Linked DNA regions of Homo sapiens. The protein of the gene in region 6 interacts with the protein of the main gene of each other region in a pairwise test. Each region holds a gene or a part of one and is shown on either strand. Other genes may lie near its edges. The genes, in order: RNF19A, PPP5C, NDUFS6, ZNF746, TNIK, MAP3K7 and ZNF593.

Region 1 (3,500 bases), on a different chromosome or scaffold from region 6:
CAAATAATTTGCTCCTTATTAATTTGCTTAAGACAGTGATTTAATGGATTTTACTTTGTGCTTAAAAGTTCTGAGTAAAAGTCATCTTTATAATCTTAATCAAAAGTAGTGTAATTATGTATCGAGCAAAGAGGAAGAAATTAAGATTATTATTTTCAACACAGTTATGAGTTACATGGTTCACCAACAGGATACTTCCAGCATTCTAAAGGTTTCTTTCTAAAGAATATTCTCTAAATGGTAAAAATTGGCTTCTAGGGAAGGTTTCTTTTTAAAAATTGACCTTAAAAAGCAGTTCTAATAAACAAGTATGAATAAACAGTATTATTTTTTTCTCAGATCCTTTTTATGAAGACAATATTGACAAATGACTCAAATTCCAGGGCTCTCATTTATAGCTCAAAGTAAATGGCAGAGAAAGAAAAAAGATGATAAATAATGGCTACCAGAAGACAGGATTGAATTCACTCAGCAATCTCTGTACAGGACAGGTGTTAATAAGTAGAATTTGATATCATCATAGAAGCGGTGATTAAAAACTGGCTTGTGAAATTATATGAACTTTGAGATCTTTATTTTCATGGTTTGCAAGGGCTAATATGGCACATTTTCCCCCTCTGTTCCAAAACAAATTCAAAACAGCCTCAAAAGTATGGGGACTCTCTAAAATAAAATGACTTATAAACAATACTACAGATGGGACTTATAAAATAATCTATTATTACATGGTATAATAACACCTTTGGCCTTTGGAAGGCTGTAAAGTACGATGAGTGTTGTGGAAAACAGTAGAAAGGTTGGGGTGGGAGGTGGGTGATGCATGTATGGGACAAGAAACCTTTCTATTTCCTAGTCAGAATCCCATTTCCCAGCATTGACTAGAGGTTCCTTGTCAATGAGCCTCCTCACTTCCCTACACAGTCCATGCAGGCAGAGATGGTAGACCTTCCCAAGGTACCTTTCATTATCCTTCAGCACTGCAGCTAATTCCTGCTCCTCCCCACTCCCATTCCTGGGAAACTTAGCACTGAAGAAGAGAAAAGGCACAACTGATGGAGCAGACTTGCAAAGGCAGGCTGCCAAGAGAAAGGAGTCTTCTAGAAAATTTTTCAGCCTCAAGCACCAATGTTTGATTAGTGATCACATTATCCCACTATTTCTGGTTCAACTTAATTTTTCTGTTTACTATTTTTTGCCACATTCTCTACTTTTTATTGTTAAGTGAAGGCTCAGCTTTTGGGTACTTTATTGACTTAGCAGGTTTTCCTAGGCTGGTTGGGATCCCAAAGCACCACAGAATATTATTTCAATGGAAAACTAATTCATTCATTTACAACCCTTTGGGTACATGTTTGAAAAAAGGAGATCTGTAACTGTACCCTATGACCTGAACAATGAGGTAAATAATCTCTTCTCTATAAATGATTTATAGGTACATGTGGTACAACAGTCTCTCTTTCCCTTCTAAGTATCTGAATAGTTTTGTTTTCAGCAAAGCCTTGCTTTGAATAACTACATGAAAAATTACGATCAGCTAATATATTTTGAAATTTTTTATTTTTTCTCTCTTTTTTGGAAATAGGGTCTCTCTGTGTCGCTCAGACTAGAGTGCAGTGGCACGATCACAGCTCACTGTAGCCTCAACCTCACGGGCTCAATCAATCCTCCCATCCCAGCTTCCTTAATAGCGGGGGCTACAGGCATGCACCACCACTCCCAGCTGATTATTTAGTTTTTTGTAGAGACAAGGTGTCACACTGTGTTGCCCAGGCTGGTCTCAAACTCCTGGATTAATGCAATCCTCCCTCCTCACCCTCCCCAAGTGTTAGGATTACAGGCATGAGCCACCACACATGGCCCAACATTTTTTAAAGTCCAGGTTTACTCACTTAAAACCTTCAGAAATAAATATGTGACTTATAAATATGTTTGTCATCAGCCCCAAAACTAATTTTTAAGAAATAGTATATATTATTTTTCTGATTATAAAATGTATGTTGAATATAAAAAATTCAGCTGTTTTACAGAAGAAGATCAACCTTATTCCCAGTCGGGTCCCAGAAGTTAGAAACAGAAATAAAGGAAACAAAAGGAAACAGATCTGACTCAAACGTAACAATTTTGTAACAATTAGTAGCCATTTTACAACAGAATGGATTGCTTCATGAGTTGGTGGTTTCCCCATGACTGAGTTCCCAAATAGCTACTGAAACTTAATCATGGAACTTATATTAAGAATTCATGCATCTGAGTTCAAATCTCAGCTCTGCTTCTTTGTGTGTAACTGAAGATATATTACATAAACTTTCCTAAATCTCAATATTTTAACACACAGAGACCGAAATATCGAGGTTGCTGCAGGGTTAAAATAAGTAAAAGTACATACAACACCTATGACACAGTATGACAACCTTTAGATCCTTTTTTTATTTTAGAGATAGGATCTTGCTCTATCACCCAGGCTGGAGTGAAGTGGCACAATCACAGCTCACTGCAGCCTCCACTTGCCCATCTCAAGCAATCCTCCCACCTCAGCCTCCCAAGTAGCTGGGACTACAGGTGCATACTACCATACCCAGATAATTTTTAAATTTTTTTGAGAGATGGGGTCTCACTATGTTGTCCAGGCTGGTCTTGAACTCCCAGCCTCAAGTGATCCTTCTGCCTCAGCCTCCCAAAGTGCTACGATGACAGGAGTAAGCCACCATGCCCAGCTTGTTAGTTCTTTTTTTTTTTTTTTGAGATGGAGTTTTGCTCTTGTTGCCTAGGATGGAGTGCAATGGTGCAATCTCAGCTCACCGCAACCTCCACCTCCCAGGTTCAAGTGATTCTCCTGCTTCAGCCTCCCGAGTCTGGGATTACAGGCACCTGCCACCATGCCTGGCTAATTTTTTCTGTATTTTTAGTAGAGATGGGGTTTCACCATGTTGGCCAGGCTGGTCTTGAACTCCTGACCTCAGATGATCCACCAGCCTCAGCCTTCCAAAGTGCTAAGATTACAGGGGTGAGGCACCGCACCTGGCCTGTTAGTTCCCTTTTTGAAAATTGCTATCCTTTGTTCTGCTTGGGTACAAGGTTGGGATTAATTTCTTTTTATTTTTTAAAAAAAGTTTTAATTTTTTTGATCTTCTTGGATACCAAAGAAAATTTCTTTTTTTTTTCTTTTAGCTATATTCTACTGAAAGTTACTTCTCAATCCAGAGATTCTATTAATTTAGGCAACAACAGACTTCTTAGGACCTCATAAATTATCCCATTAACCCTTAACAAAAGAACTATTTGCTTAGCTAATGAAATATAATTCATCAATTAGAGGCCAGTGGTAGTCACTGGTGTTTGGACTTTCACAAGATTGTTATAATTTGCAAAATAGTGTATTTATTAAAAGCAGTAATCCAAAAAAAAAGCTTTGAACTACAGCAGAAATAATTCAAGAACTGGCTAATTATTCTTTGCCTGAGGGCATGTGTTATTTAGCTATTAACTTTCATTAAAAAGAT
Region 2 (3,195 bases), on a different chromosome or scaffold from region 6:
CGCAATCAGGACCGCGGACGCCTCATGTCTGCCTGGGAGGTCTCCAAAGGGCCAAACACTCCCGGACTCGGCCCTGCAGGAGTCATTTGCTGTAGACCATCCCCCAGTGCCACATACCACTGGAGAAAGCTGAGTCCAGAGGAGCTCAAACTTGAAAACACAATCTCTCTGGAGGGTCAAGGCCTGGCAGGGCAGCCTGAATGGAATCCAACGTTACCTGTGACTAAGAGCCAACTGGGAGTGAGACAAGGGTCCTCTGGTCTCCCTGGATGACGGGAGATGCGCGCCTCATCGTGTGATGTCAAGAACCACTGCTGGGCCTACCCTGAGCAGGGAGCAGGGAGCGGCACTGTCATGCTTGTTGCTGGAGCCAGCAAAGGATGAGGCTATGCCTCAGCTTCCGCTCCGCTCCACTCAGTGCTGGCCTCATCGCCCCACCCAGGGGGCAGAACTCTCCCCAGGAGCCCACGGTGCTGGGCAGAGGCAGAGGCCACTTGGGCGGTCAGCCCAGAGCTGGGTGGGCCCGGCCAGCGGGACTTTGCGGCCTCCCCACCCTCCGGATCTCCTGAGCAGGCGTAACCCAACCCGGGCAGCTCCTTCGGCTCCACCATCCAGAGACAAGCTGACTTCCGATAATGACTTTATTTTAACATATTTAATTACAGACATAAAATAGCTGGGGAGGGGGGTGAGCCCCAGCCTAGCCCCACCATGGGGCTATAGGAGGGGAGGCGCAGGCGGGGCCCCCCTGCTGACCCTCTCTCTGGGGGTCTTCCTATGGCGGGGCCCTATTGCTTGAGTGGGGGAGGAGCCATGCAAATGAGGGGGGCAGGGCAGCCACTCGGCCCCACCCCACCCCGAGGACGGCCTCCCCACAGAATGCCCAGGCTGTGCCCCCAGCCCCAGCTGCTCCACCTCCTTCCTCTCTGTCCAGGGAGCAGACCCTCTGGCCAGCCCCTGACTCTGCCCCTACCCCCTCTGCAAACCTAAAGGGGAATAAATACAAACTTTACAAAGTAAAAGGGGGTCCAACATTGCCCTGGGGCGGGGCCTGCTCTGCCCCTAGCCCAGGGCCTGGGTCCGGTGGGATTGGAGGGGCCCTGGGATGCAGGCCGCCCCGCCCGTCACCTCACATCATTCCTAGCTGCAGCAGCGTGTTGGCATAGGCCATGGGCTTGACGTTGGGATGAGGCTGTGGGACCAGGGCAGGTGGGATGGACAGAAGTCAGAACAGAGCCCCTGAGCACCCACCGGCAGAACCTACCCCTGCCCCTTACCAGGGTCTCAGCCTCCTTGTCCCCAGGCCGGGATGGAAGGGGCAGGGGCCCTGAGGGGTGACTCACCACTGCTGTGAACTGGTGGAACTGAGGCCGTAGGTCAGAGCCCTGGAGGTGGATGTAGGAGGCTTTGTTCCCCATCTGGTCGCTGCAGGGACAGGAGCAGAGTGGACAGTGTGGTCAGGGCTGGGTGGGGCTGGTGGGTTAAGAGAAGGAATGGCTGGGCAAGAAGGGACAGAGGGAGAGGGAGGGACAGAGCCACAACAGACACAGATGGACAGAGAGACAGAGATGGGAAAGACGAATCCAGGGGAAAGAATGGGAGGGGCAGGAGGATGGGGATGGGGAAAAGAGGGTGGGAGTGCAGGAAGCAGGAGCAGGAAGGGGCAGGGCATAGCTCATGGAGGTGGATGCTCGCCAGACCCCACTAGGAATCTGACCACGCTTCTAGCTTTGCCCACCCAGAGATGCAGGGAACAGAGGAACATGTCACACGGCACCACGGGGATGCAGTCAGCCTAGTCCAGGACACAGGTGACTCGTACAGCAGGCAGCAACCTATTCTTCAACAAATAAATGATGCGGGTGGGGAGAGACAGGGAACTCACAGGCAAAGAGACTGAAAATGTGGTCCTTGTTTAGGTCCTGTCTGGAAGAAGTCAGCTGGAAAAGACACTTAGGAGAGACCAGGAGAAAGAGAACTTGGCAGGATTCGGGTGGGGGCAAGGGATCAACACTGTGTGTGTGTGTGTGTGTGTGTGTGTGTGTGTGTGTGTGTGTGTGTGTGTGTGTGTGTGTGTGTGTGTGTGTGTGTGTGTGTGTGTGTGTGTGTGTGTTTTGAGATGGAGTCTTACTCTTGCCCGTGTGCGTGTGTTTTGAGATGGAGTCTTACTCTTCCCCAGGCTGGAGTGCAGTGGTGCAATCTCAGCTCACTGCAACCTCTACCTCCCGGGTTCGAACAATTCTCCTGACTCAGCCTCCTGAGTAGCTGGGATTACGGGTGTGTGCCACCACGCCCTGCTAATTTTTGTATTTTTAGTAGAGATGGGGTTTCACCATGTTGGCCAGGCTGGTCTCAAACTCCTGACCTCAGGTGATCCGCCCACCTCGGCCTCCCAAAGTGCTGGGATTATAGGCGTGAGCCACCATGCCCAGCCAGCACTCAAAAGTGTAAACACGATATTGTGGTTAAGAAAAAGATCCCTTTCCTTCTGAAAAGTGCTGGGCAATCAGTGGGAGAAAGGTGAAGTGCCAGGGGCTTGCTGTAACACAGGGCAGCTGGTCAGCACTCACAGGCTGGCCCCACTGGTGCTGCATGGGTGGGTGACACATACGGGGGTGTTCGTCATGTTCTTTTATCTGCTCTTGCCTGTCTTTGAAATGTTCCATCATAAAAAGGCAAAACAAAAACCAAGACAAAAACCCGTGGCTTGGTAGAGGCCCTGGGCTGGAAAGGCAAAGACATACCAGTAGTTGGGGGCAGAGAAGACGGTGACACAGCGGCCTCCGTGAGCCACCTCGTAGCCCTCGGCCTTGACTTCGTGGCTGCGGATGATATAGTCCAGGTTGTTCTCTTCCAAGAAGGCCTTGGTGACGTCAGGCCCAAACTGACAGCTCACGCCCCGCTTGCTGATCGAGCGCCCGTTCTGAGGGTGGGCAGAAGGGAGAGACAGGGGTTCAGGGTGACTGTCTGCCTCCACCTGCTGCCACAGCCCACACCCGCCGGCCCTGCACCCCACCCTAGACTCACCTGTGGCTGTGGATCTGACCAGAGCAGGTCACACATGGGCCCTGGTGGGGAGCGAGGGAAACATTAGGGACTCGTCCACCTCCCCGGGGGTGGTCACTCACAGGCCACCTCCTGGCCCGGCCAGGTGCTGACCCCACAGCCCAGCCTGGGTGGGTGTTGGGCAGGGGA
Region 3 (2,571 bases), on a different chromosome or scaffold from region 6:
TTATAATCCTTACTCTTTTAAAAACATAGACTGTCCTTAATGTGGCCAGTATGTGACTTTCGATGCCTTCAAACCAGTGCTTAAATTCTTGGGTTTTAAGATCTGACATTTCAACATAGGGACTAGGACGGACGGATAGACCAGCTCTGCAAGCCAGCAACAGGAGAGAGGCTGACCTTCCCATAGGACCAGTTGAGGCCTGGGCACCCTCCTTCACTATGCACCTCAAGACCCACCTTGGCTCTCTGAAGCACAGTTGCATCTGCAAAACAAGAGGCACTTCTCCTTCTCCTTCCCTGCCCCCCGCCCATTCCTGCAGCCCACGTGGCCCCAAGGATAAGAGGAGACACACAGAAGCAGCCGGTAAGGCAGGCAGCGGCCGGCAGGAGGCAGCTCAGGCTCACTGGAGCGGGCACTGCTTCCACTCGCATGTCTACCCATGTCCACGTGGATGTTCACTTCCAAAGCCCAGACTATGAAAGAAACAAACTTACAAATTGTCAGCCTTGACAGCAACACCCTTTATTCAGCACCAGGAATACCCTTCGCACAGAACCAGCGAGCTTCACGTGCTCAGCTTCCCCGCGGAAATGCTCACAGGATGCTGCGGGACCCCCGGCGTGCCACACGCTCTAGTGGTGGTGCTGTCTGAACTGGAGCCCACAGTAACCGCATGTGCCGGTTTTTGTTTCTTTGTCCTGAAAAAATTCAAAAGGAATGATGTCATATTTCCATATTCTACTTCAAATCTAGATATTAAGCATTGAAAATGTATGTATAAAACTTAGACTGTCAGAAACAAAAATACGCAGTTACTACTGAAGTAAGAATGCAGACTGTCGATCTCGGTTCCAGGCTGACCGAAGCCCCTGGCCTCAGGCTCCCACCCCGGGCTACGCAGCCATCCCCTAGGACCCCCAGGGACATCACTGTCAGCCTGCAGCTCCATTCACTCCCCACACCTCAGCGGCCTGGAGCAGGCGGTGGGTGCTGCACACGACAGTGAGGCACAACCAGGCTTGGCCTTCAGGGCTGGAGCCCAGGAGGGGACATGCCGGGTGCCCAGTCCCACTCTAGGCTGCTTAACCATTTATGCCTGTTACACTGTCCCCTTTTCAGGACAGGCAACAAGATAATGACAGCTTTTAATAAATGTCAGCTCTAACGAAGTTAAAGTCCCTTAACCAGGACTCTGCTTTGGGGAGAACACCAAGCCCAGCAGCCGCCTGAGTCCCTGAGTGCTCCACTGTCGGTGGCCTCCCCCTCTCCCTGCACCCCAGGTCAGCAGCCGCCCGAGTCCCTGAGTGATCTGTGGCAGCCTCCCTCCCACCCTGCACCCCAGTTCCACATCCCAGCTTCAGCCCACGGTCTCTTTCTCCGGTCCTGTGTTCTTTTTTTTCTCAATGGTCCTGTATATGACACTCATCAACAGGCATAAAAGATTACATAGGGATTGTTAGAAAATAAACCGTGTGCCCCCCAAAGTCCTAACCCCCGATGTGACTGTATTTGGAGATGGGGCCTTTAAAGAGGTGATGAAGGTAAACTGAGGTCACATAGGGGCCCTGAGCCAATCTGCCTGGTGCCCTTATAAGAAGAGGGGATGAGGAGTCTCCCACAGAGGGACGGCCCTGTGAAGACACAGGGAGGAGACCTCATCTGCAAGCCCCGGAGCGAGGCCCCAGGAGGAACCCACAGAGCGGCACGGTGGTCTTGGGCTGCAGCCTCCAGCGCTGTGGGAAATGTGTTTGTTGTTTTCGACCCCAGCCTGCGGTGCTGTGTGTGGCAGCCTGAGCTGAGATGATGACCAAACCGAGAAGGGCCCAGAGAGGAAAGACGCTTGGGCGTCCGAGAAGAGAAACATGCCGCCCACCACTTCACAGTTGAAAGGGGGTTTTCGGACAGGCGGCTCTATGTAGGCCCTGTAGTGTGGCGCTGTAGGGTGAATGTGCCAGCAGTGTGAACCCCGTAAGGGCCGCCTCGGGAGCAGGTAGAGAAGAGGACAGAAAGAACAGGCACTGGGAGTGAAGGGGAGTATGAGGACGAGCAGGCTGCCCTAACATGTGCACAGGTGGCCAGCTACGCACCAAGTTTATATACACTTTTGGGTGGCCAAGAGCTCCCCCGCCGCCATCGCACGCTATCACCCGAGTCTCCACCTCGCTCACGGGCTGCTCTGCTATCAAATCAATGGCAAAGTTTTCATTCACCTGGAACAAGAAGAAAGACTTACGTAAACAAATACACAAACTTGCTAACTACATACAATTTAACCCACCACACACAAATTCATGTACCATCAGCACGAATCTATGGTGCATGCTTCATTTAACTATTATCATTGTAGACCTTATTAAATTCAGGGCCTACACACACATCTACTTTTCACTGGAATAAAGTTCCAAACGCGGAGAGGCACTGCAAGAATCCCAGCAGCACAGAGCCTTTCCCTTCTGTCCCCGTGGACCCAGCAAATGCTGACACGTGCCCCGTGGGCTCTGCCACGCCCTCTTCTCCCCACCACATCGTTCTGTCCCACCTGAGGACATTTGTATTGCTCGGGCCTGTCTG
Region 4 (3,500 bases), on a different chromosome or scaffold from region 6:
CAATACCATGTTCAGGGAGCCCACAGTGTAGGTGTGGGTAGGAAATTATTGTGTAGGGTGATAAGCACCGTGATAAGGGTCTGCATTGTGCTGCAGAGGCCTGGAGTAAAGGCACCCACCCAGACATAGACCTAACATACCCAAGCAGGTGATGGCCAACCTGAGATCTGGCATGTGGTATAGGATAGCCCCACTTGTCCACACATATGGACTCCCAGCCCAACTCCCCCGTGCCTAGGGAGAGAGGGGCTCAATGAAGACAGTGGATGGAATGAGTGATGCCAGTTTCTCTTTTGTTTCTGAAAGATTTCTCCGTGGACGATGGCAGCCACGATTCAGGCCATGGAGAGGAAGATTGAATCGCAGGCTGCTCGCCTGCTTTCCCTAGAAGGTCGAACCGGGATGGCCGAGAAGAAGCTGGCTGATTGCGAGAAGACAGCCGTGGAGTTCGGGAACCAGCTGGAGGGCAAGTGGGCCGTGCTGGGGACCCTGCTGCAGGAGTACGGGCTGCTGCAGAGGCGGCTGGAGAACGTGGAGAACCTGCTGCGCAACAGGAACTTCTGGATCCTGCGGCTGCCCCCGGGCAGCAAGGGGGAGTCCCCTAAGGTAGCCCTGGGACGCCTTGGGGTGTGGGAGCCCAAGCGGCCAAACCCGTGAGCGTGTGGGTGAGCGAGTGTGACACTTGTGGTTCCAGGTGCCCGTGACCTTTGATGATGTGGCCGTGTATTTCTCCGAGCAGGAGTGGGGCAAGCTGGAGGACTGGCAGAAGGAGCTCTACAAGCACGTGATGAGGGGCAACTACGAGACGCTGGTCTCCCTGGGTAAGGCCTGACACTCATTTCTCTGTTAAATGGGATTTTGCAAGTCCTCAGAATTCTCCCTCCACATAGTTGTTTTCATGTCAGTGTTATATAAATCACCAGAAACATTGTTGACCTTGCAAGTTGTTACCTTTTGTGAAGGATGAGCCCTGGGTGATGGAGTTAAAAGCTCCCTTCTCCCTGTGTTGAGTTTCCCAGAATGCCAGTCTGGGAACGGCGGTGGCTTCTCTCCTACGCAGGCCCGGGATGTGGACCTTTCTGTTCTTGCTGACTTGGAGCGGGGAAGGCCCCATCTGCTCTCAGATCCAGTATGTAATTGACTCACATTTGAGAAAGACTCTTTCCTTCAGCCTTCTCCTACAAACATGCGTGGCCCTTACGGCAACATGCCTCGAGGTCAGTGGAGAACATGGGCAGACGGTGCTGCTTGCAGCAGACATTTTCTTCATGCCTCAAAACTTTGCTTCCCTCAGCCCCTGGGGCTACTGCTCTTCTCCTTGTTTAATCCTGCCCAGGAAGGGCCTGGACTCTGTTTCTTCCTGGGCTGGTTTTCTCTTCCTAATGGTTTCTGTGTGACCCCGGAGCCGAGGGCAGTGAGACCTGTTAGAGAGGGCAGGAGCAGGTGCAGACGTGAGGTTGTTTCGTCAGCACAAGTGCACTGCTGTTTAACGTGCACGCTCTGTGGCAGTTTCTTCACCCCGGCACTGTGGACATTTGGGACCAGGTGATTCTGTGTGTCGGCGGCATCCTCTGCATTGTAGGATGTTGAGCAGCAGCCCTGGCCTCTCAGGGCATCTCCAGATGCCAGTCACCTCTCCCCCAGCCCTGGGCATGACAACCAGAATTGTCTCCAGACTTTGCCAGATGCCCCCAGGGAGCAAAATTGCCTGTGGTTGAGAGCTACTGCTTTGTGACAATCAAGAGATTTCATTTCTAGACCATTGTTGGTTTTCCGGGATGACTGTCCCCAGCTTTGACTGGAACGTGGCAAAAACTAACCTTCTGTCTTTCCTCAGACTACGCCATCTCCAAGCCCGAGGTCCTCTCCCAGATTGAACAAGGGAAGGAGCCCTGCAACTGGCGCCGCCCTGGCCCCAAGATTCCAGATGTTCCTGTGGACCCCAGTCCAGGTAAGGGCTGGGAGAAGGCCAGGGAGGCATCAGGTATTGTGCAGGAAACAGAGACGGAAAGGCCAGAAAGGGTGTGATCTTTCCAGAGAGAGTCGAGGAGAAACATGAAACTTACAGGTTTTATGTCTTGAGTTTTTTATAGTTGAGTTTTAATCTCTAACTTAGTCAGCTAATGCTCCAGAAATGAACACTTTCTGTCAGGGAAACAGGTGGCAAACCTAATCTTTTAGGAAGAGACAAAGGCAGGGCACAGGTTGAGGGGAGGGAGAGGAGAACGCTGAGAGGGAAGGCAGGAGCATAGTTGACCCTTAACGCAGGGGCCAGGGGCACCAGCCCCCAGTCCCACGCAGCCAAAAATCTATGTATAACTTTTGACTCTCTAAAAAGTTAACTGCTAGTAGTCTCCTATTAACCAGAAGCCTTATTGATACTATGAACAGTCAATAACACATATTTTGTATGTTCTGTGTGTTACATAGTGATACTTACAATAAGCTAGGGAAAAGAAAATGTTACTAGGAAAATCATAAGGAAGAGAAAATATATTTATTACTCATTAAGTGGAAGTGGAGCATCATAAAGGTCATCCTCCTCATTGTCTTCTTCAGATTGAGTAGGCTGAGGAGAAAGAGGAGTGGTTGGTCTAGCTGTCTCAGGGGTGACAGAAGCAGAAGAAAATCCATTTATAAGTGGGCCTGCATAGTTCAAACCCATGTTGTTCAAGGTCAGCTGTATATTGACAACAAAATTAATCCAAAGCTTTGCAAAGAGTCAGCCTTGCCTCCAAGAACCAACCTTAATTTAAACCAGTAGCAGTTGTAGAGCTACTTTGGTCTACATTGGTCAGCCTTATGGTTTGGTATTATTAGAAGCACACATTTATTTAAGGTGAATCTTGTTACCAGATATCAGCGTCTCAGATTTCCCTGGAGCCAGTCAGCACCTTTGAAAGTTAAGGGAAGGACAGGTGGACACAGGAGAAAAACCAAATTCCTAAAGTGAAGACCTGCTGGGTCATTTGACTAGGGAGACCACATCTCTGCAAGGCTCGACCCCTGATTCCTCCAGAAGACCCGCCCTTGACCGTCCCACCTGCCTTGGTTTTCCCTTTCGTCTGACACTGAGAAAGGTGGTGGTCCGCAGAGGCCCTCCTGTGCGCCACTTGTGTGAAATTAAATGCATCCCCCATGTTCGTCATCTCATCTCAGTCAGATTTGCACTTTCCTAAGGGCAGAAGCATGTTCCGGGCTGGCCGCTTTGCCAGTCGTCATCGGGACATTGACAGTTTAGCTCTACAGATGCATTTTTAAGAATCTTCTAGGCGTCAAGGACAGTGCTGAACACTAGAGGACAGAAAGATGGCTGAGAACAGATACTATTGGGCTGGAAAAGAGGGTTACAACCCGTGCGCGTCCCCAGCTTCCTAGCCTGGGTGGGAGGTTCTGGGTGGGTGGGTTTCGTTGTATTTACACCATGTGTGGAGGCTTCCCTCACTTCCACAGCATCATTCAATGAGAGTAAAGAGGGGCTGGAAATACGCTGGTTGCTG
Region 5 (3,500 bases), on a different chromosome or scaffold from region 6:
TATGGGGCATAAGATAGTTACATTTTGATTCAAGAAGGAGGAAGGGCCTTTCTTCCATTGGAGTATGGAAATGGAAATTCCACTGTATATTGAAGGTGGGTAGGCTAGAGACCACTGCATAGGGGTGGGGGTGAATCTTGGGGAAGAAGAGAAGTGATTTATAGGGAGAGCCAAGAAAGAAGTGGTTTTTCCAGGCAGGGAATAAAGGCAAATTATGCTAGCTTCACATCTGTGCCTAAGGCTCCTATTGACAAGGACTCTCTGCATTAGGTAGTAAATAACTAGATGTATGAATGCTGCTAACTTTATAAAAGAAAACTGTAATTTCATTACCAGAAGTACAATGATTTAATTATTATGTCAGAGCTTCTACATTCATTAGTTTATATTTACCTACTTGCCCATTAGTGTATATTTACAAGTCACAGTTTCTTAAATTTTATAGGGACTCTCGATGCAGAAGATTAAAGTTCATGAAAAGTCAGTCTTAGGGTGCTTCTTAAATTTACAGGTGTAAACCTTCTGGTGGGGACTGAAAATGGCCTGATGCTTTTGGACCGAAGTGGGCAAGGCAAAGTCTATAATCTGATCAACCGGAGGCGATTTCAGCAGATGGATGTGCTAGAGGGACTGAATGTCCTTGTGACAATTTCAGGTATGTTACTAAGATGATGAGTCCCCCAGGTCCATACAGCGGGAAAGGGATCCACCTCATTTCTGCAGAAACAGTTAGTTCTGCCCTTCCCAGCTAACAAACAACACAATAAAGTATAGCAGTATAGCCAGAGTGAGATTGCCCACATTTTGTAACACTGGGAATTCTGACCTCCAAAAAGAAGTCTCTCACCTCTGCATTAAATCTGAATTAGGCAGAGACATACCACAAAGGCTATATATTTATAGCTCTTTACCTCTGTCAGGACTCAGCAAGGATCTTCGGATGTTTTTAAGGTTTCTGCACTCCAGTTATTACCACATACAGACAGAATATCAAAATGCAGGCTTCCTAGAGGGACATTTAGTAAGCAGAAATTTCTTGGTCTCTTCCCTCAAAAATTCTCTTGCTTATAGCCCACTGATGTTTTGGCAGGTGCAGCTGGCACACTGGGTGATCAAGTCTACAAAAAGATTTGAGTGTGGGAATCATTACTGCTATGCTCTGTAGCTTTCTGATTCCCAAAAAGAGCCTTATATAGGAAAAAAAAAAAAAGATGGAGACTAAAGTGAAGGCCTTGTAACAAGTTAAAAATGCAACCTAAAAGAGGGTAGTTTTGTTGAAAGTTTTTTTTCTTTTTGGTATTTGAAGGAGTTTAACGAGTAACACCCGTCACTTCCCCTCTCATTCCATCTAGTATGGAACCAACTTGCTACTGCACTTTATAATCACCTAGGGAGATGTGAAAATCTAGGCTGCACCCCCAGACCAGAGTCAGAATCTCTGGGGGTGGGGTTTAGGCATCAGGAGCGTTCATAGTTTCTGATGTGTTTCCATTGTACAGCCAAGTTTGAGAACATGGATTTATGCTCAGCCATTGTTTCACGAAGAGACAACACAGGGATGCTGGTTTGAACTTTCCTCAAAGTTCAGCTGTACTTCCATTTTGACAAAATGCTTTTGCTTGTCACTAAACTTCCTCTTTCTTTTACCTTTCCACTGAATGCTCAGTTTCATCTCTTTTTATTCTCCCCAAATAAGGTTAACCAGGTAAATTCCTTTTGTATTGCCATTTGAGTTTAATCCCATGTAGTCTTTTGTTCTGGTTAATTGCTGTCCTGATTGCTATACTACCAAATCAAAATGAAAACTGCATATCTGCCAAAAGTGGGAATGCAACCAGAAAATTCACATTCAGACTTCATTATGTTGTTAGTGGCACATCTTCATTCTTAACAGTGTAAGAGTTTCCTTTTCTCATGAGGCACAGATAGGGAAAGGAGAAAATGAAAATAGGAGCAAAAGATTCTTGAACTAACCTTGGATTCATATTGGCATAGAAAGGAGGAAACACTGGCTCTCGTGTCCATCCTAGCTACTGTGATCAATGTGGATTCTAGGCCTTTGGTTACAAAATTGAATACTGACCACACAATGATTCCCTTAGTTTAGGTGATGAATGTGCTCTCCTGTCAAATGCATGTGTAATGCTTTACTAAGTTCTCTTCTGCTGGTATATATTCATCTATAAAATATAAAACATTTTTTTTGGGAGAGGCCGAGGCGGGCGGATCATTTGAGGTCAGGAATTCCAGACCAGCCTGGCCAACATGGTGAAACCCCATCTCTACTAAAAATATAAAAATTAGCTGAGCATGCTGGGAGCGGCACCTGTAATCCTAGCTACTTGGGAGGCTGAGGCAGGAGAATCGCTTGAACCCAGGAAGCAGAGGTTGCAGTGAGCCGAGATCATGCCACTGGACTCCGGCCTTGGCGACAAAAGTGAAACTCATGTCTCAAAAAAAAATAAATAAATAAATAAATAAAACATTTTTAAAGCCTAAGATAAAGAAAAATAAGTATCCAAAAAATAAAACCCATAGAGCTAAATTTATCATTAGTTAGGAAGAGTCATCCCAATGGACATTTTATCTGGTGCAAATCATCAAATGGAGTATATCAAGTTTTGCTACTTGTGTACTCTTCAATATTGTCTAAATATTTTATCATCCTATGAATTCTTTATTCCAAGATCACTTTACCAAACGGAAATTTAAGTTTTCAAGTTTGCATCCTTTTTTTCCTATTTTTGTTCAGTATTCCTTTCAGTGACTTCAGCACCATAAACCTGCCCAGTATAATTTTCTGAACCCATATTATCCTCTTGTTTGTTATTAGGTTATACGGTGAAGGAAAGGCAGGTGCCAAAATGCCCAGTTGCCAACACTTCTTCATGTGATTGATCTAGAATGTTCTGGAACTCTGATCACTCTGTTGAAGAGTTAGCTCTTACTAAGTTCAGCAGACACTGCTTTGCATTGGGAAGAGAGAGTAAGAGCACATGCTCAAATAAGAAACCACCTGAAGATAAAAGACATTGTAATTCTGTGATGTGTCTAAAACACGTAGAGCTATTTTAACCATAAGTTCTGGCAGAAACACCATTTTAATGACAAAGTGCTGGGGACACTGGTTATTATGCCTTCATACACACACACACACACGTAAATAAAATAAATTAGAAATAAATGGAGGTGGGGAAGGAAAAAGTGAGAGCTGTCACAGCAATTTGAAATTAAACCTCTATTATTTCAACAGGAAAGAAGAATAAGCTACGAGTTTACTATCTTTCATGGTTAAGAAACAGAATACTACATAATGACCCAGAAGTAGAAAAGAAACAAGGCTGGATCACTGTTGGGGACTTGGAAGGCTGTATACATTATAAAGTTGGTAAGTCTCAAGACATGGAATTATAAGTTTGGTCTGTTTACTCAATCAGACTTACTTAGTTAGGTTTCACCTAGTTTTTTCTATCAGATTGATGATGCATGTGTGACCAGCT
Region 6 (3,500 bases):
TCAACATAAAAGTGCCAGCAGTTTGATAATTACTTCTACGATTTCCAAACTGTAGTATTTAATTTCCTATTTAGGCTTACCTTTCAAATACCAGGTTGGTTCCATTTAAATCACTGTATCAATAAATTATGATAAAACAATTTTTTCTCTCTTTTTTTTGAAGTACATACAGAAAGCTTTTCGCAAATTCAGAAAAAAACAACTTTCATTTATTTAGATTAAAATTAATGAAGGGAATCCTATTATCATACATATATAAAGTTGCCAAAATTTTTTCCTTATCACTTCATTTTAGTTACCACCAACAATTCAGTTACCTAAGTATAAAATTTCATGGAGGTCATGCTTAAGAAAACTGAAGATACATACATATTTAAGAACTGTGAATGCAGTAGTAAGGAAATTAGGCTGTGTTTCTTTAAAAAGGGAGGAAGGCAGTTTCTATAACTCCTCAGAAAAACACTCAGTTATGAAATACAGTCTTTTAATAAGTAATCCAATTCTAAACATACACCTGGAAAAAATGTATCTACAAAAATGTTTCTAAGATAAGGCACAACTGAATGTTAATAAATCAAATTATTTTATCTATTTACAAGAAAACAATAAATCTTTATAATAATAAGTCTAAACAGCTCTGAGAACATAAAACAACAAGTATAAAGCACCAGTTTATTTTCCATAGCACTAATATGATAGTCAAAAGGATTGAGTTTTGCATAAAAAATTTTTAGTAAAAGGGTGCTTAAAGCTTAAACAAGTTGAAAGTATACTTAATGACTAATTCTAAAAACTACGTTTTCATTGCACCTTATCATATTTTAAACTCAAAATACTAATGTATTTTTATTTTTATTCATAAAAAATAACTTACTTTCTCTGTAATAACAATGCAATTTCTGTTTGAACTTTCATATATTCTTGTGCCATTTTACAATGCTGTTCAAACACTGCCATAGATTCTTTGGAGTTTGGGCACGGTGCTAGAGGCTGAAAATAATCAGGAATGTTAAAACATAATTAAATCAAATTTCAATATCTAGCTAAGATGAGAGTCAAGACAGAGACTGTGATATATTTTTATAGCACTAAAGCAATGATCTTTTAAAAATAAGTGTTAAACCATGCCCTAGAAAATCTCAGTGTCCTTTTGTCAGAATTAACTCAGCATTTAAATCTATTCTTGCTGTTTTAACAGTCTGTTACAGAGAATCATGATTGTTGGAGTTGTAGTCTCTGGTATGACATTTCAGGCTGCAAACAGGCTCAAACTAAATGATGTTTATAGCCCTCATACTCATGAGGGGGCACTGAAGTATATTATTTACATTTTCAGTCACTATGAACATGAGAATGTATCACAAATGTATTAAATAGAAATAAGCTTATGAGTTTTGTTTTAATGCACTAAAATTAAAGAGTGAAAATGTAATGCTTAGCAGTACTAAAGAAAGATACTGGAGGATTTTAAGATGACTGAAAAGATAAGAATATGATTCTGCCAATTTAAAGTTTGATTAACTTAACCAAAAGAATTATTTTGATTTGATTCTAAAAAGTTTAAGGAGGCCAACTAAAAGGATAAATTAAGGAGTGACTATACAATGACAGGTAGCAACACAATTGTCAACTTAAACTCTCTAAGAAGAAAAAAGTCAACTTTCAATAAGAAAGTACTCCTTTACCTGTAGTTGGTGATCCAGTGTAAGATAAGCCATTGGGATGGAGTTATCTGATCCATTGGTATCTGGAATTCAAGCATGTATTTTATTGATTTTCTGTCACAAATAATTATAAACGAACAGCAAGAAAGCATGAATGAAATGCTTTTTTTCCCTAAAGTAAATAATATGTAAATTAAAAGTTACAGCTATTGGTAATTGAAGAGTCTATTTCTGAATTCTAAAGGTTAAAAAAAGGATATTCAATTATCAGATATTAGAATGCAATTATATTCTCATACCTATAATTTAAGTTGGCTATAAACTGAATAGAACACAATATATTAGAGCTTCTAAGCTCTTAATTAAAAACAAAAACAGTGATGAGACCTTTATATTTTAAATTCAGTCTTAATTGACCCTATCTAATCAAACTCCCCATCTCTTTTCTTTATCATGCTAAGTTTATTTTATAGAAGGCTATATCAACTCCGCTAATATCAATGTTCCTTAACAGGGAAAGGGAGAAAGCAGAGACACATTCTCTTCCAGTGGATCATTTTCAATTTATATAGATTATAATGTGACCTCCACCACTCATCCTGCCCTTCCCAGTAAGAATCACTGCAGAAAACGAGATGTTGGTGATGAGAGTATATTACAAATACGAACAGTAAGGAACCAAAATGAGGTTGAAACCTGTGGCTCAATGTCATGCCGAAAACAGTTAAGTTGATTAATTCAAACAATCAGTCAATTTTATAAAATTATTTGAATAGAATGCTTTTGTTTATATTTCAAAAGAGGTAAAACTGCCATACAACTTGACTGAGATGCGTGGGACAGTCTCTTCTCAACATTTATGGTTATGTAGAACAGTTCCAGAAGTAAACAGAGTAACTCTGAAGCAATACAGACTTTTCTACTTCAGAAGTAGTTGCTTTCCCACTGTTAGTAGACAAAAAAAGAGCTAAATGAGTGAGCTCTTCAGCCTTTTTCTGACGAATAACTCCTTGAAGGAGTGGTGTGGATAAAGGCAAGTCAGGAAGACAGCAGACGCACTGTATGCAATCCAAAAAAACTCAAGAAGGGTTGCTGGCTCAGTAATCTTCTAATTTATTGTCAACTGATAATCCAGGTGTTTTTTTTTCTTTTTGCTTTTGTTTTTGTTTTTTTAAAGCCACTGAGAACGTGCTCTCAAGAAACTCCAAAAGCTAATTAGCGAAATCAGACCAAATGAGCCAGTGCATGTGAGGAACACCATGCAAATCCTGGCGTATATTAAGCACTCAATACATGACGGTAGTTATCATTATTATTCATACTAAATGGAGAATTAGAAAGAACAATTTAAAATAGTATAGTATGAATTCCATATTGAAAAAGTAATGTTTATTAAATATTGCAGGGCAATACAGAAAAACAGTAGAGACTTAAGGCACTTACCCTTACCCTTAAGGCTCATATACAGTACTAACATAAATGTGTGTTTTTCTGAAGTGGCTAAACAAGAAATATACTTAATTTGTTATTTCTCTGACCAACTCTTCTCCCACCCCAACAGTGGTTTCAAACTACGCTCCCACATAAACACTGCTTTCCACAAAACTAAAACTGATTAAAAATGACTGATTTCCTCCTGATTTACTAGAAAAATTTAAGTGTCTTGAAAAAGTTTCAATTTAAGATTTCCATTCCTATTATTCTTTCTTAAATCACTGATACATTATATATCTCATTATATCAGCACCCTGTATCTGATATGTATTTTAGAATTAAGCTTAATACATCAGTGTTGCGTGGTATTCTGGGAGCAGAAAAAAAGTCCAAGGATTGTGT
Region 7 (2,695 bases), on a different chromosome or scaffold from region 6:
CAACTGACCCCTGAGGCACACCCTCTGTGCACCTCCAGATGCAGGTAGCTGGTGAGCTGAAGGCAGAGCCCCGGAGTCTGCTGGCAGGAGTTGTGGCTACAGTGCTAGCTGTCCTCGGCCTGGGTGGCTCCTGCTATGCCGTCTGGAAGATGGTGGGGCAGCGGCGGGTGCCACGGGCCCCGTAACGAAGAAGAGAGACTCTCACTTGGATGCTGGGGGTAGGTGACTCGGGAGGGGGGTGCAATCTCAGAAGCCTTCTTTTCTGGGGATCAGTCTCTGTCAGAAGCAGGACAGAGTAATCTGATCCCACTCCCGCCACCCCACACTGCATCAGGCCTCCATCTGGGTGCTCCAGTTCAGATGCTAGGACCTCAGAGGGAAGGCAGAGATAGACCAAGTGGGGAGTAGACACCCTAGGCCTGGTGTACAGAAAGTAGTAGAGAAGCCCTTCCAGGGCAGGAGTTTGAGACAGCGGCCTGGAAGTTAGAGTTGGAGGCAAGTTCTCTTTGTCCAGTTCCTTTATTTGGGGCAGGGCACCAAGAAGAGGCCCTCCGCTCCCCAAACCCAGAGGCAAAAGGGGTTGGCACGCTCCCTCCCAGCCTAGTCCTTGCGTCACTGTCCATGGGCAATTCCTCTGCCCTGCATCTTCAGGCCATGTCAGGTAGAGGTATCCATCTCAGGGACCTCAGTGGACACTTCCGTGGGCACTGCCAGCCGCCTGGGGGGCACATAGGATCCCATACCCGCTGCCCTCTCCGCCTCTTCCTGACTGTAGGGCTCGACGCTCAGCTGCTTCAGCCTGGGAGAAAGAAAAACAGGAGTTGGGAGCTGACCAGGTGAGAGCCCTATCTGCTGAGCACCCATCCATCAATCCTCTCCTTACTCCTTCATACCTTTTCTTGTGGTCTTTGGATCGGAAGTGGGTCTTCAGGTTGGTGGAATCGATGAAGTACCTCCTGTAGGAATGGAAGTGAGAAGGAGAGTGAGGAGGTGATAGTCTCCCAAGTGCACCTATCTCCCTAGCCCTAGCTTGTCCCTGACGCCAGGATCCGGGTCTGAGAAACGGGAGGCGGGCGGACCCACGGGTCCCAAGAGAGAAGACTCTGCGCTGCCTGGGGCTTCAACTTCACATCTCCCGGCCGGTACCGCGGACCCTCCTCCGCCCCAGGCCGGGCTCGTCCGGGACTCACGCGCAGGCCAGACAGCGGTGCAGACCGCCCCCTGGCAGGTCGGGGTCGAACTCGGCGTTTGGGTCGGGCTGGGGTCGTGCGGATCCCTGAGGCCGCAGCTCGCGGTGAATCTCATCCAAGTCCGGCCGCCGCCGCTTCGCCTTCATCTGCCGGGCTAGAGAGTGCGCTCGGTGCGCGCCTGTCCGGCGGGAGCGACCCATGGCCAGAAACAGCCCGGCCGGCCAAGGGGCCAGGAGCAGGGCAGGGAGCACACGTGTGAGCACTTCCGGGCCGATCAGCTACGTCAGGCCACGCCGGGGGGCTAGGCAGGCTCGGCCGGACCGCCTCTGATGACGTCACTCTCGGCCAGCGGCTCGAGCGCCGCCAGGCGGCCGTCGACGTCAGTGACCGAGCTCAGGACGGGCTCCCAGAAGTGTGCCCACTGAAGGGCATGGCCCCGCGGGCCCTCGCTGGGGAGGCGCGGGGTGGTGCGTGCGCCTGGGGGTTTCGGGGCCGTCTTGCTGCCCTGCTCTTCCTGGCCTGGTCCAACCAGTATCAGTGCCAACCTGTACTCCTGTCATCCCTTCCTGTTTCCCAGACCTTGGACTCCGCGGTGGGGGTGGGATGCTTTATCTCTGGAAAGCACTGATAAATGTCTGTGTCATGAATAAATTAGTAAATGACTGAGAGTGAATAAGTTTGGAATCCCAGCCCCACCAGGGCTTCCCGAGATAATCTCCAGTCCCTGAAAAAGCCCTCACTTCTCCGGGCTCCCGTTATTCCCTTGAGTCTCCATCCTCTCTCTGACCCCAACCAAATCCGTGAAGGGTGTTCCTCCCCAGAGAGTGCAGTCCTCAGGCATCCAGACTCCAGAGGGATCAGTTCCTCTCACAAGTACTCATAGAAGGACCTCTCCATCTTTGCCTCCTTTCTCTAAGCCCTGGGCTCCCAGAGGTGGGCTGGCAGCAAAGGCCTAGGTGTTGCATGCTCAGAGTGGCTAGAGGGCCTTTCCCCATTCACAGGAGCCTGGTGCCTCCCAGGCTGGCCAGAGCCAACTCAGCTGGAAGGGGCCAGAGGAGCTTAGCAATAATTCAGGGGCTCCAGCTCTTTGGAGTCTGTTGCCAGGAAACAAGGAGACAGGCACGTGTATCCCTGGGGAGAGGAATCAGTTTCCAGCCCAGACAAAGGAGTGAAATGTAAGCCCAAGGTGCCCACTGGGGGCCTGCGGACCTTCCTGCTCCAGTTCATTGAGGCTAAGTAGGGACACAGGGTGGAGCCCTGCTGAGGACACAACTAGTATGACTACAGTCACAGGGGCTCCAGTGTGGGTCCCAGACCTCAGGATTTTGTGAATGGAAGAAGATTTTCCTGGAGGCATGCTAAGAGATGAACAACTCAAGTACTCCTAGGCCCAGGAAGAAAGCCTCTCTAGAGACAAATGACTTCATTATTCTTGGCCAATATGGGTCAAGACAAGGGGCTAAGGTGGCAGAAGCTTGTTCCATCCCCCACTCCCCGACTCCTTT

The links.
Region 1: the proteins of MAP3K7 (region 6) and RNF19A interact in a two-hybrid assay, tested with the Homo sapiens proteins (one large-scale study listed by BioGRID and IntAct).
Region 2: the proteins of MAP3K7 (region 6) and PPP5C interact in a two-hybrid assay, tested with the Homo sapiens proteins (one large-scale study listed by BioGRID and IntAct).
Region 3: the proteins of MAP3K7 (region 6) and NDUFS6 interact in a two-hybrid assay, tested with the Homo sapiens proteins (one large-scale study listed by BioGRID and IntAct).
Region 4: the proteins of MAP3K7 (region 6) and ZNF746 interact in a two-hybrid assay, tested with the Homo sapiens proteins (one large-scale study listed by BioGRID and IntAct).
Region 5: the proteins of MAP3K7 (region 6) and TNIK interact in binary tests that used the Homo sapiens proteins (3 or more experiments, as listed by UniProt).
Region 7: the proteins of MAP3K7 (region 6) and ZNF593 interact in a two-hybrid assay, tested with the Homo sapiens proteins (one large-scale study listed by BioGRID and IntAct).

The regions. Positions count from the first base shown.
Region 1 is NC_000008.11:100,264,954-100,268,453, forward strand, and holds part of RNF19A (E3 ubiquitin-protein ligase RNF19A), read right to left. Parts: intron 1-3,500. UniProt on the Homo sapiens protein: E3 ubiquitin-protein ligase which accepts ubiquitin from E2 ubiquitin-conjugating enzymes UBE2L3 and UBE2L6 in the form of a thioester and then directly transfers the ubiquitin to targeted substrates, such as SNCAIP or CASR.
Region 2 is NC_000019.10:46,388,281-46,391,475, reverse strand, and holds the end of PPP5C (serine/threonine-protein phosphatase 5), read right to left. Parts: intron 3,069-3,195; coding exon 3,028-3,068; intron 2,924-3,027; coding exon 2,745-2,923; intron 1,426-2,744; coding exon 1,344-1,425; intron 1,193-1,343; coding exon 1,130-1,192; 3' UTR 501-1,129; downstream 1-500. UniProt on the Homo sapiens protein: Serine/threonine-protein phosphatase that dephosphorylates a myriad of proteins involved in different signaling pathways including the kinases CSNK1E, ASK1/MAP3K5, PRKDC and RAF1, the nuclear receptors NR3C1, PPARG, ESR1 and ESR2, SMAD proteins and TAU/MAPT.
Region 3 is NC_000005.10:1,813,978-1,816,548, reverse strand, and holds the end of NDUFS6 (NADH dehydrogenase [ubiquinone] iron-sulfur protein 6, mitochondrial precursor), read right to left. Parts: intron 2,211-2,571; coding exon 2,088-2,210; intron 699-2,087; coding exon 633-698; 3' UTR 501-632; downstream 1-500. UniProt on the Homo sapiens protein: Accessory subunit of the mitochondrial membrane respiratory chain NADH dehydrogenase (Complex I), that is believed not to be involved in catalysis. Complex I functions in the transfer of electrons from NADH to the respiratory chain.
Region 4 is NC_000007.14:149,491,310-149,494,809, reverse strand, and holds part of ZNF746 (zinc finger protein 746), read left to right. Parts: intron 1-306; coding exon 307-606; intron 607-694; coding exon 695-821; intron 822-1,837; coding exon 1,838-1,951; intron 1,952-3,500.
Region 5 is NC_000003.12:171,079,406-171,082,905, reverse strand, and holds part of TNIK (TRAF2 and NCK-interacting protein kinase), read left to right. Parts: intron 1-511; coding exon 512-655; intron 656-3,253; coding exon 3,254-3,388; intron 3,389-3,500. UniProt on the Homo sapiens protein: Serine/threonine kinase that acts as an essential activator of the Wnt signaling pathway. Recruited to promoters of Wnt target genes and required to activate their expression. May act by phosphorylating TCF4/TCF7L2.
Region 6 is NC_000006.12:90,517,573-90,521,072, forward strand, and holds part of MAP3K7 (mitogen-activated protein kinase kinase kinase 7), read right to left. Parts: intron 1,748-3,500; coding exon 1,686-1,747; intron 991-1,685; coding exon 875-990; intron 1-874. UniProt on the Homo sapiens protein: Serine/threonine kinase which acts as an essential component of the MAP kinase signal transduction pathway. Plays an important role in the cascades of cellular responses evoked by changes in the environment.
Region 7 is NC_000001.11:26,168,679-26,171,373, reverse strand, and holds ZNF593 (zinc finger protein 593), read right to left. Parts: upstream 1,467-2,695; 5' UTR 1,391-1,466; coding exon 1,191-1,390; exon of another isoform or gene 957-1,190; coding exon 894-956; exon of another isoform or gene 800-893; coding exon 658-799; 3' UTR 501-657; downstream 1-500. Other genes in the region: transmembrane protein ZNF593OS, read left to right, coding at 39-185. UniProt on the Homo sapiens protein: Involved in pre-60S ribosomal particles maturation by promoting the nuclear export of the 60S ribosome. Negatively modulates the DNA binding activity of Oct-2 and therefore its transcriptional regulatory activity.